Homo sapiens: one gene and its partners. The protein of the gene in region 1 purifies or fractionates together with the protein of each later gene. This does not show direct contact. Each region holds a gene or a part of one and is shown in the gene's direction. Other genes may lie near its edges. The genes, in order: CERT1, POC5 and MARK3.

Evidence for each region.
Region 2: the proteins of CERT1 (region 1) and POC5 purify together in Homo sapiens (co-immunoprecipitation; one large-scale study listed by IntAct). This does not show direct contact.
Region 3: the proteins of CERT1 (region 1) and MARK3 purify together in Homo sapiens (affinity purification with mass spectrometry; 2 studies listed by BioGRID and IntAct, with this or other methods). This does not show direct contact.

Annotation. Positions count from the first base shown.
Region 1 is NC_000005.10:75,501,577-75,505,236, reverse strand, and holds part of CERT1 (ceramide transfer protein), read left to right. Parts: intron 1-3,660. UniProt on the Homo sapiens protein: Shelters ceramides and diacylglycerol lipids inside its START domain and mediates the intracellular trafficking of ceramides and diacylglycerol lipids in a non-vesicular manner.
Region 2 is NC_000005.10:75,676,528-75,679,594, reverse strand, and holds part of POC5 (centrosomal protein POC5), read left to right. Parts: intron 1-1,644; coding exon 1,645-1,821; intron 1,822-3,067. UniProt on the Homo sapiens protein: Essential for the assembly of the distal half of centrioles, required for centriole elongation. Acts as a negative regulator of centriole elongation.
Region 3 is NC_000014.9:103,489,893-103,493,552, forward strand, and holds part of MARK3 (MAP/microtubule affinity-regulating kinase 3), read left to right. Parts: intron 1-1,884; coding exon 1,885-2,142; intron 2,143-3,660. UniProt on the Homo sapiens protein: Serine/threonine-protein kinase. Involved in the specific phosphorylation of microtubule-associated proteins for MAP2 and MAP4. Phosphorylates the microtubule-associated protein MAPT/TAU. Phosphorylates CDC25C on 'Ser-216'.

The DNA of each region.
Region 1 (3,660 bases):
CAGCTCACTGCAACCTCGACCTCCCAGGTTCAAGCAATTCTTCTGCTTCAGCCTCCCAAGTAGCTGGGACTATAGCCACGTGCCATCACGCCCGGCTAATTTTTGTATTTTTAGTAGAAATGGGGTTTCACTGTGTTGGCCAGGCTGGTCTCAAACTCCTGACCTCAAGTGATCCACCCACCTCAGCCTCCCAAAGTGCTGGGATTACAGGCATGAGCCACCGCGCCTGGCCTACTTAGTTTACATTTAACTTAGTATATAGAAACAACTGTTCCTTTTTGCACTCGTAGTCATTAGACATGAATAATGTTTAAGATATGTAAGAACTATAACAAGTAAACTGGCATAAACAGGTTTGGGAACAACCAACTGACTTGTTAAGCATGTAACCCAACTAGTGAGAACAGAAGTACCTGATAATACAAAAAATAGCATACTGGTTAAGAATGGTCAGCATGCCATGGGCCAAAAAAAAAAAAAAAAAAGTGTTGGCTAAGGCCAGACAGTTAAATAGAGGTCAGTTAAGGGAGCTGTTGTAGTTAAAATCTGAAAATGGGTACGTTAAAACAAAAATACAGAGTTTACTAACTCACTCAAAGAGAAGTCACATTTTGTGATAGAATTTATTTGGCTTATAAAAGTGAAAGATATATATATAATACTTCAGATTTCCGTTAATATCTAATCCTTACTTAGCGTATGTTTGTTATGCATTTAGGGAAAATCTTACAGTATTTTTACATTATTTTTTATACATTATTTCCCCCCTTGTATATTCAAAGTTTGAAAACAAAAGTTTAGAATTGAATATCAAGTTAGAGAAACACAGAAGAAATATTTGGAAGTGTTGATAATGAAACTACGCTCTCTATTCTTAGAGACAATTTTTAGGAAATAGCTTTAACATAAAGGCTCAGTATTTATTTTGACTGGTATGTGGTACATTGTAATGTGTTTAGAAATTGTATCTAGTTTAATATTTTGGGTGTTTTTCTTCCGAGATAGATCATTATTCATATCAATGGACAGAATAGTGGATTGAAATGTACCTTGCGATCTTGAAGTGTTTTTCCTTGATCCTCCACTCCCCTTCTTTTGCGTATTATTATTGGATGTTTATTAGTTGCAATGCTTAACTCTTTGAAAATAGTATAATGATTGATGTAAAAATGGGGAGGAATTAAATTTTATCTTTATTATTCTCTAAGTAGTAGTATTCCTAGAGTACCATGCTAGTTTCTGTGGATTTAAATATAGTTATTCTGTCTTGAATTATGGACTATAATAATGTTGCCTGGCTTATTTGGAGAAAAGAAAATTTTAAATTAAACATTTAATTTAAATGTTTAATTTAAATTAAACAAAAAATTTAAATGTTTAATTTAAATTAAACAAAAAATTTAAATTTTAACATTTATATCCATCTTCTCAGGAAGAAAACAGTGTTACTTTATTGTAATTGATTTTTGTTATAGCTATATGTACATGCATAACTTTCATTGTGGTACATAGTAAAAGACATGCGTAGGAACAAGAAACAATTTGAATTCTTTGAAGGAGAGATAAAAGTAGAAGTAAAAAGATGAATTAGGCAACAAAATCTGTGTGGTAGTCTTAGATACAATGAAATGGATGATAGGAAAAAACACAAGCATTTATATTATTGAACTTGAACTTTCCTTGCCCTTTGGGTTCACAGACTCCATGTTACATATTTAAAGGAAATTAAAAATATAACTGAATTCAGTGAACTCAGGATGAGTTTACAAATTAGAGTATGTACTTTAGTTAAATAAATAAATGTAATAGTAATATTCCTCATTAAATTTTAATAGGCATCTCTTGGTATTTTTTTTCCTTAAATATGGGCTATGCCTATTGTCACTTCATGTCAGAATACAAAGAATGTAAATGTTTAATTTCTTTATATGGCACTCTTATGAAATTGATAATATTCACGTACAAAGAAATCTGGGCTTGAAGAGTTGATGTGACTTTACTGTAACCATTCATTACTATATTATTTGTTGGTGGACCTAGCATCTGAACCCACATTTCTTGATAGAGCCTAATCCATTTTAAGTTCATTCTTAGTTTAATGATTAAATCACTCTTAATTTATAAAAACAATATTCTTTATCTGTGTGATAATAAAGTGGGTGAAATAATTTCAAGGAAGAAAGTATGTCTTGAGAGAATTTATTCCTTAATGTGAAAGGATTGACAGTAAGTAGGTGAGAGGAAAAATAGTATTCCCTTACTTTGTGTAAAAAGAGCTATTTGTATGTAGAATAAGTGTTTGTAGAAAGACAGTTGAATTCTTCAGTTATTATAGCTTGATACTTAGAAGACCCAGCCCCTGCTACAAAATTTGCCGCATAGTAGATATTCTGAATATGTTAGTTGTAATTGTTTCAATTAAAAGCAAATGTTTATGGAATATTTACACTGTTTACTTTTTATATTCTATTTTTAAAATAAAGTGCACATGATAAAAAATATAATTTGTGGCATTAAAAAGTTTAAGAAGTACATGCTGCTTTTTAGTCTTGCACTTGAGGGACAACCAAACTTAAATTTCTGGTCATCCTTTCAGAAAATATGTAGGACTATACAAGGATTTGTTTATATCTTTCATAAATATTTACACAAATGGTATCATATTAAGCCTATTGTTCTGCACCTTGTTTTAATACAACTTACACATTAACTGTTATATTCTGTTGAATCGTGTGGATATATTATATTTATTTGCCTGGACCCTGTTTTTGCACATTTAAATCATGCCTAATTTTTATTACAATCATTATTGAAACAAATATGTACTTTAAAATTTGTTTTTAGTTATTGTCAAATACTCCTTCAAGAGTACCACTCCTCACTCCTACCAGTAGTGAATGAGTGCCTCTGTTTCTCCTTACCCGCAAGTATTGAGGAAGTTGGGTTTGGCAAATGTTAAAGTATTTGTCAAACTGCTACATTAAAATGGTATCTTATTATTTTAAATTGCACTTTTTATCCATGAGGTTGAGTAACTTAATAATTTATAGCCCATTTTTATTTCTTTTTCCTTTTCCAATTGCTTATGCACTTTTTTTTTGGTTTTTCTTTCCTTTTTGGCTTGTAGAAACTCTTCATATGGTAATTAACCATTTGGCACATTTGTTGCAAATATTTTCCCCCACATTGTCACTTGTCTGTTTCTTCTTTGCTTGTTTTATAGTCTATATTAGGCCCTAGAGAAATCTTAGATTTTTACATACTCTTATTGACATCTTTTATTACGGCTTCTGTATTTACTTGTTTAGATAGGTGTTTCTCTCTCAAAGACTATCTCTCTATATGAATGTAGATATATTTTCATCTAAAATTTACACTTGAATTTTGATTCCTGTGGAAGTTATTTTAGTTTAAGGAGTGATATTGATGTTTTTAGTTTTTTTTCCACATGACTAATTATGTATCCTGGTAGCATTAATTAAATAACTAACCTTTTTCCAAGTGGTTTCAAACACCACTTTCATCATATATTACGGTCCCATATTTATTTAAGGTTGTTTCTGGACTCTCTTCTGGGCATTTGGCTTGTCCTTCTTATCCTCTGTTTAAAATTATATTGTGGGTATTTCATCAACCAGTTCCTTAAACTGCTAATGATTC
Region 2 (3,067 bases), 170 kb from region 1:
TCCAACTATAGTGAATTATTTCCAAACTCTCCAAGGATTACAAAACCCCACTGAATGCTGTTTTCCATAGGGTCTTCCAAAAACATCAATACTCTGTCATTTTAATTTTCCCAGAGACATCTCTCCTGAAGCCCACTCTCTTCCCATTTCAGTATACAGCTGTGACTGTGTGTAGCTAGATGCAGCTATATGGAGAATCACAGATGAACTATAATAATCGGGAAAAGATTGATACTTAATAAATGCCTTTGGAAAAACTGTTTAGAGAAAAAATGAATTTAGATTAATACTTCACACTGGAATTTCAAATGTTTTAATAAGCTAAGCCAAAATAAGTAAATGTTATAAGAATATAACTACCTCAGCTGTCCAAAGCTGGTTTTGGTTTCATCATGGAAGCAAGAGGAAATTAATGACAGGATTAACCACAACTTAAAAAAATGGATGTGCATTGAAAATTAAGACAAATACATGAAATGGGGAAATCGTTTACACTCTGAGATAAGTATCTATAATTATTAAATGAGTTTAGTACTCGTCAGGAACTATTAAATTTAAATATTAATATCCTTTCAATTCTTAGCAAATAAGATGAATAGTTGACAAAATGGAATACAAATATGAAACATTAATAAAGAACCACAACTTGAATAGTAGATTTCACCTCAGACTTAAACAGGCGGCTGTGTAATTGATTGACAGTGGAAAAATAGTCCACTTACGTGTTATTCCTGCTGTAAATATTTTTCTGGAGTATTATCCAGCGATAAGCAGCAAAAGCTATAAAAGCTGATAATACTTTTTGATATGATCGTTCCATTGTTTGCAATATATTTTTATTATACAGAAGTAACTCTCAAAAGAGGATTTTTCTTTTGCAAAATGTGCTAAATGTAATAGAAAAAGAAAGACAAAGTAGTATGTTGGTATAAAAACCATCTCATTAAGAACTATAGCAGGTCTCTGTATTACCTCGTAAAAAAAAGTATATTAATAAAATGAGAAGGAAAAAAGGCAGAACACAGAAGCATATGTGTAATGATAATATTAATTATGCTTAAGGATCAAAGAGTCCATAAAACAGATTAATGGTTTCCAGAGGTTAAGGATGGTTGGGGAAGGAACAGAGAGATGGATATGACTGTCAAGGGTGGCACGAGGGAGATCTTCGTGGTGATGAGTATTCTGTATCTTGATTGAGTGATAGTTAACAGGAACTTAGGTGATAAAATGACAGAGATCTATACACAGGCATTATCTCATGGTGAGCTTCCTGGTTTTGACTTTGTTATATTCTAATTATGTCAGATGTAACCATGGCAGGAAACTGGGTGAAGAGCACACAGTACTTTTCAATATGATCTCTGTGTCTTTCTATAAATCTATCATTTAAAAAAAAAAAGTTGGTTTTTTAAGTTTCTAAAATCTTATAAAATCGTTGGCATACTCAGGTTAAAGGGATATTTTGGGGTGTTCAGTTTTGTTTTGCTTTTCGTCTTGTGATTTTGTTTTTTCCATGTTAAAGTTGGTTGAACATACAGTTATTTTAAGTGCCTGTGTATTCTTCATAATTTATGGAATCAATAGATTTTGCTGTGGATTTTCTGCCACCTTGTTACTTCTTTTATTTTTTTTTCTTCTTAGTATGTGCCAAGAGTTGTAACCTCTGCACAACAGAAAGCAGGAAGAACTATTACAGCCCGGATCACAGGAAGATGTGATTTTGCTTCAAAAAATAGAATTAGCAGCAGTTTAGCTATAATGGGAGTTTCTCCTCCCATGAGCTCAGTTGTTGTGGAAAAACATCATCCAGTCACAGTGGTGAGTCCACATTTGATGACCTTTTGTCAAAAAGTCTTTTTCCTGAGAGTTCATAGACTAGTAAACACTTACATAACATGTTGAGAAGATAAAAATTTATGATGACTGGTACTTGTTCTGCCTTTTCCTGTTACAGTTTTTTTTTTTTTTTTAATATATATACTTGTTTTTCTCAAACCTGCTATAAATCTACGTTTCTGCTGTTGGGAAATTAATTTCAGAAACATCGTTTCTTCCAAACTGTAAAAATTATAAAATACTAAAAGTAATCCAGTGTGTTTGTGGTCAAAAGAGTAAAATATGTAAATGCTTTATTATCAGTTTAAAAAGAGACAAAAATTGTTCACTCACTAGCTGCTCATGTAGCAGATATTTGATTACAAGAAAACTCCCCTACATTTATAGTTTTTAATTTTTGGTCCTTTTTTAAAAAAAGTCTTCCCCTTTTTTCAGTACAATTGTCAGCATGTTTTTAGTTTAACAAAATTCAACTTGCAGTAAATGCATGTGATATAAAGAAGGTGCATTGAATTTGAAGCAAAAATTTTAAAACCCGAGTTAGTGCTTCAGCTTTGCTACTTGTTGGCTTTGTGATATATACAAATCAAGTAAAATATTTGAGCCTCCACTTTCTCTTCTGTAAAATGGGGTTAATAAAAATAGTTAGCTCCTTGGGTTATTGTTAGGATTCAAGATTAAATGAGATAATGTGAAAATTAAACGAGATGTATTAAGGCATTTTATAAACTATAAAACCATAAGCAAATTTAACTTACTGAAAGTTACTAGAAAAAGATACATGAGATATCTCTGAATTATTTCCTACAAATGTGTACGAATCAACAATTATCTCAAAAAGTATAATAAGAGTGATAAGAACATCCCTAAAGAAAAACAAGGATTTATTTATTTATTTATTTATTTATTTTTTATTTATTTTTTTTTTTGAGACAGAGTTTCTCTCTTGTCTCCCAGGCTAGATAGAGTGCAATGGCGCAATGTTGGCGCACTGCAATCTCCGCCCCCTGGGTTCAAACAATTCTCCTGCCTCAGCCTCCCGAGTAGCTGGGATTACAGGCACCCGCCACCACCCCCAGCTGATTTCAGGGACTGATTTTAAAAGAGAATGCCCTCTATAAATTCTCAGCATCGGACAACGTTCCTGTGTACTTTCTAAGTATTAGCAAAAAAAAAGTATATGGAATGATTTTAAATCCTTTTTTCCCGAGTACTAGCTGGGCACTAG
Region 3 (3,660 bases), on another chromosome or scaffold:
CTTACCATGTCTGTTAACAGTTAATTTGCTCTGATGAATTTGCCCATCTTGGAGAAGGGGGCTCTGCTGACTGTTTTTTATCTTGGAGTAAATGTCCTTTGATTAGGAAGGTTCTAGACTATATTGTTAAAACAACATTGGAAGGCTGGGCATGGTGGCTCATGCCTGTAATCCCAACACTTTGGGAGGCCAAGGCAGGCGTATCGTTTGAGCCCAGGAGTTCAAGACCAGCCTGGGCAACATGACAAAACTCTCTCTACTAAAAATACAAAATTAGCCAGGCATGGTGGAGTGCGCCTGTATTCCCAGCCACTTAGGAGGCTGAGGTGGGAGAACCACCTGAGCCCAGGAAGTTGAGGCTGCATTGAGCCATGATCGTACCACTGCACTGCAGCTAGGTGACAGCAAAACCCTGTCTCAAAAAAACACCAAACAACATAGGATACTGTTATATAACAGCTAGTTCCTATACCTGTAATCTTATTAATTCATTTAAAATACATCAGTGCGGGCCGGGTGTGGTGGCTCACACTTATAATCCCAACACTTTGGAAGGCCAAGGCGGGAGGATCACTTGAAGCCACAAATTTAAGACCAGCCTGGATAATATAGCGAGACCCTGTCTCTACAAAAAAAATAAATAAAGAAAAAATAAAATATGTCAGTGTGTTTTGGGAACAGGTTGAGAGCATAGCATGCTCATATTATATATTCATTTTACCACTTAGATTTGAATTGAGGCATCTCTTAGAATAGGTTTTATTTTGTGCATACCCTCAGAGGACATTGTCCCTCTCATAGAAACAGATATTCAAACATGTAATCTGCTATTTTATTTTAAGGTAATAGATTTTTATGATTACTGTTTGGAAAAAAAAAAAAGCAACTATAGGTTAGCAGTTGCTCCAGAATCTCCAAAACAAGCTTAGGAGATTTTTATTCTTTACCAGAAATGAGATGGCTTGGGAGGAAGGTGTGTGCATTACACACAGGTTGCTCTGTGGTCACTGCTCCTTCATACTGTGTTTCTGCCTCTGCCTGAACCCAAACCCCTCCCAGCCTGACAGAAATGTTCGCTTACGCAGCTAGCCCTGCCTCAGTTTGTACATCTACCTGTCGGCTGAGACATCAGAAGTCGATGTCCATGTCAGCCTCTGGGCACCCCAAGATGATGTTACCTCCAATAGACAGTGAAGGAGATAACTTCAAGGCTATGTAAGAAAAATGCACATTCTTTGTGAAACTAATGTGTACCCACTGCTTCTTAATTTTGTGCTGTGGATTTTATAGTCTGAGATTTTGTTACAGTTGTCCACAAGGCGTCCTTCCTCCATGTGATTTTAGTTAAGCACATCTTTTGTCATGATGTCCTCGGTTGTGTATTGTGTGTCTTCGTGCCTTCGCGTACTACAAAATGTATAAGAAGTTCCTGCTCCTCCCAAGTTGCTTTCAGCATGTGGAATTTTATACATATATCATTTGTTTACTTCCAAAACTTTTTAGTTGCCTGTTCTTCAGTTACGCCAGCATATCCTTTATTTCTTTCGTATTGGCACAGTTCTCTATGTAAGCAATTTGAGAGGGAAGCAAAGGGGAAAAGTTTGAGTTAGCTGTTCTCTGTCCTAGAATTTCCCTGCATTAATCTTGTCCTTGAAAATATATATAATACTGGTCCCTTAAACTCCATGAGGCTTTGTCTCATTATGTATTGTTCTTTTGGTACCCTTTCCCACTTAACTTACCTTTTGCTCCTAAGTCCTATAAAATACCCCTTGGATCTGGATTTTTTATACCCGATTTTCTCCACTGTGTATAAAAGGTATATTGTGACTGTAAATTTTTGTATATCATGTTCTGAGAGCTTCTTACTTTCTGATCTCATAGCACTATTCCTGATCAGAGAACTCCAGTTGCTTCAACACACAGTATCAGTAGTGCAGCCACCCCAGATCGAATCCGCTTCCCAAGAGGCACTGCCAGTCGTAGCACTTTCCACGGCCAGCCCCGGGAACGGCGAACCGCAACATATAATGGCCCTCCTGCCTCTCCCAGCCTGTCCCATGAAGCCACACCATTGTCCCAGACTCGAAGCCGAGGCTCCACTAATCTCTTTAGTAAATTAACTTCAAAACTCACAAGGAGGTAAGTGCTAGGTGCTGGTTGTTTTGGAGTGAACACATAGAGCAAAAGGAAAGATGTCTTTTTTGTTGTGTGAAGCCACTGCTACCTGGATGCTTTTCAGTCTGCCTTCAGCTCATGGTTTTCTGGTTTTATATATATCTAACTTTATACTTTAAAACCTTTAAAGTAGAAATTGTAGAGCTCAGAGTCTTCATAACACTAAAAGTTAACTAGCATTTAGGAGGTTTTTGTTACTGTTCTTTAATTATTGTTCCTTTTGCTCACGTATCTGTCTGCATGGCATGTTCGTTGTTGTTGAGCAGGCAGACCTCGAGTTCTGGTGTGGGGTGGGGGGCTGGCACTCTGTAACAATCAGCAGGAAAGACCATGCATGTCTTTCATAATCATCTCCAGCCCCAGAGGAAAGAGACAGCTTCTCTTTTCTCACTTTATTGTTGTTAAGGAGCAGTAAATTTCTTAAGAGTCCAAATCTTGAAAGTTTCTCTCTCAGTCTTAGTAATTTATATTGAGAGCAAGGTAATGTCCTTAAATGGTATAGTTTTGGAGATAAAATCTCTGGTTTATTATCAAAAAATAATGTTACTATTATTAAGTTATTTTTATTAAATGCTGCATGATTCTTGGCTGATGGTCCTGGAAATTTTTTAAAATGTTCCATGTGTCTAGTAGGCTAGCATCTGGGGCCTCAGTAAACTCTCAAGGGTCCTTTGAGATTAACTTCATTTCCGTAACCTTGTTACCTGTTACAAAAGCCCAGAAATACTGGCTGCTTCAAGAGGAAAAAGAAAGGATACCACTTTGAACCGTAAACAATAGTGAAAGGCACCTTTCCGAGAAGGAGCCCAGGAAACCCAAGAGCCCCTGCAGTTTCAGGACATCCTTGGAGAAATGTTTTGAAATTAAGCCTAGCTGTGGATGAGTCTGTCTGTGGTATCTTGCAGGTTTGCCTAGGACGGACCCTCTTATTTGTCATCTGTAGCTTACAGGACAGCAGTAGGAGTCTTTCCCGAGTCTGAAATGATCAGTACCCTCCTCTGTTTTTCTGCATTCCCTATGGCCTATAGCCTATTACTTCATTTCACTCCATCTCCATTATTTAAACTAAGCTAAATGTAATCTTGTATTCGATCATCTGAAACTTCGGTGAGTCACATTAAAGTCTGATCTACTTATTATTAGGACATGGAATAGATTAGGGAGTATTCCTTTTTTTTTTTTTTTTAATTTTTTTTTTTTTTTTGAGACGGAGTCTCACTGTCGCCAAGGCTGGAGTGCAGTGGTGCAATCTTGGCTAACTTCAACCTCCGCCTAGATTAGGGAGGATCTCTGACATCCATTAGCATTAACTAGAAGTCAGACGCATCAGAAGGTTTCTATTTACCCTCTTACTCACTTCTTAGCCCCTTTATTAAGCCACCTCATTTTAAACTGGGCAAAACAGAATCAGCCAAAGAGCTTTGCCAGGTTTGGGACACCCATTCATGACCAGCCAGCAAGAGAGACAGTGAGTTCAATCTG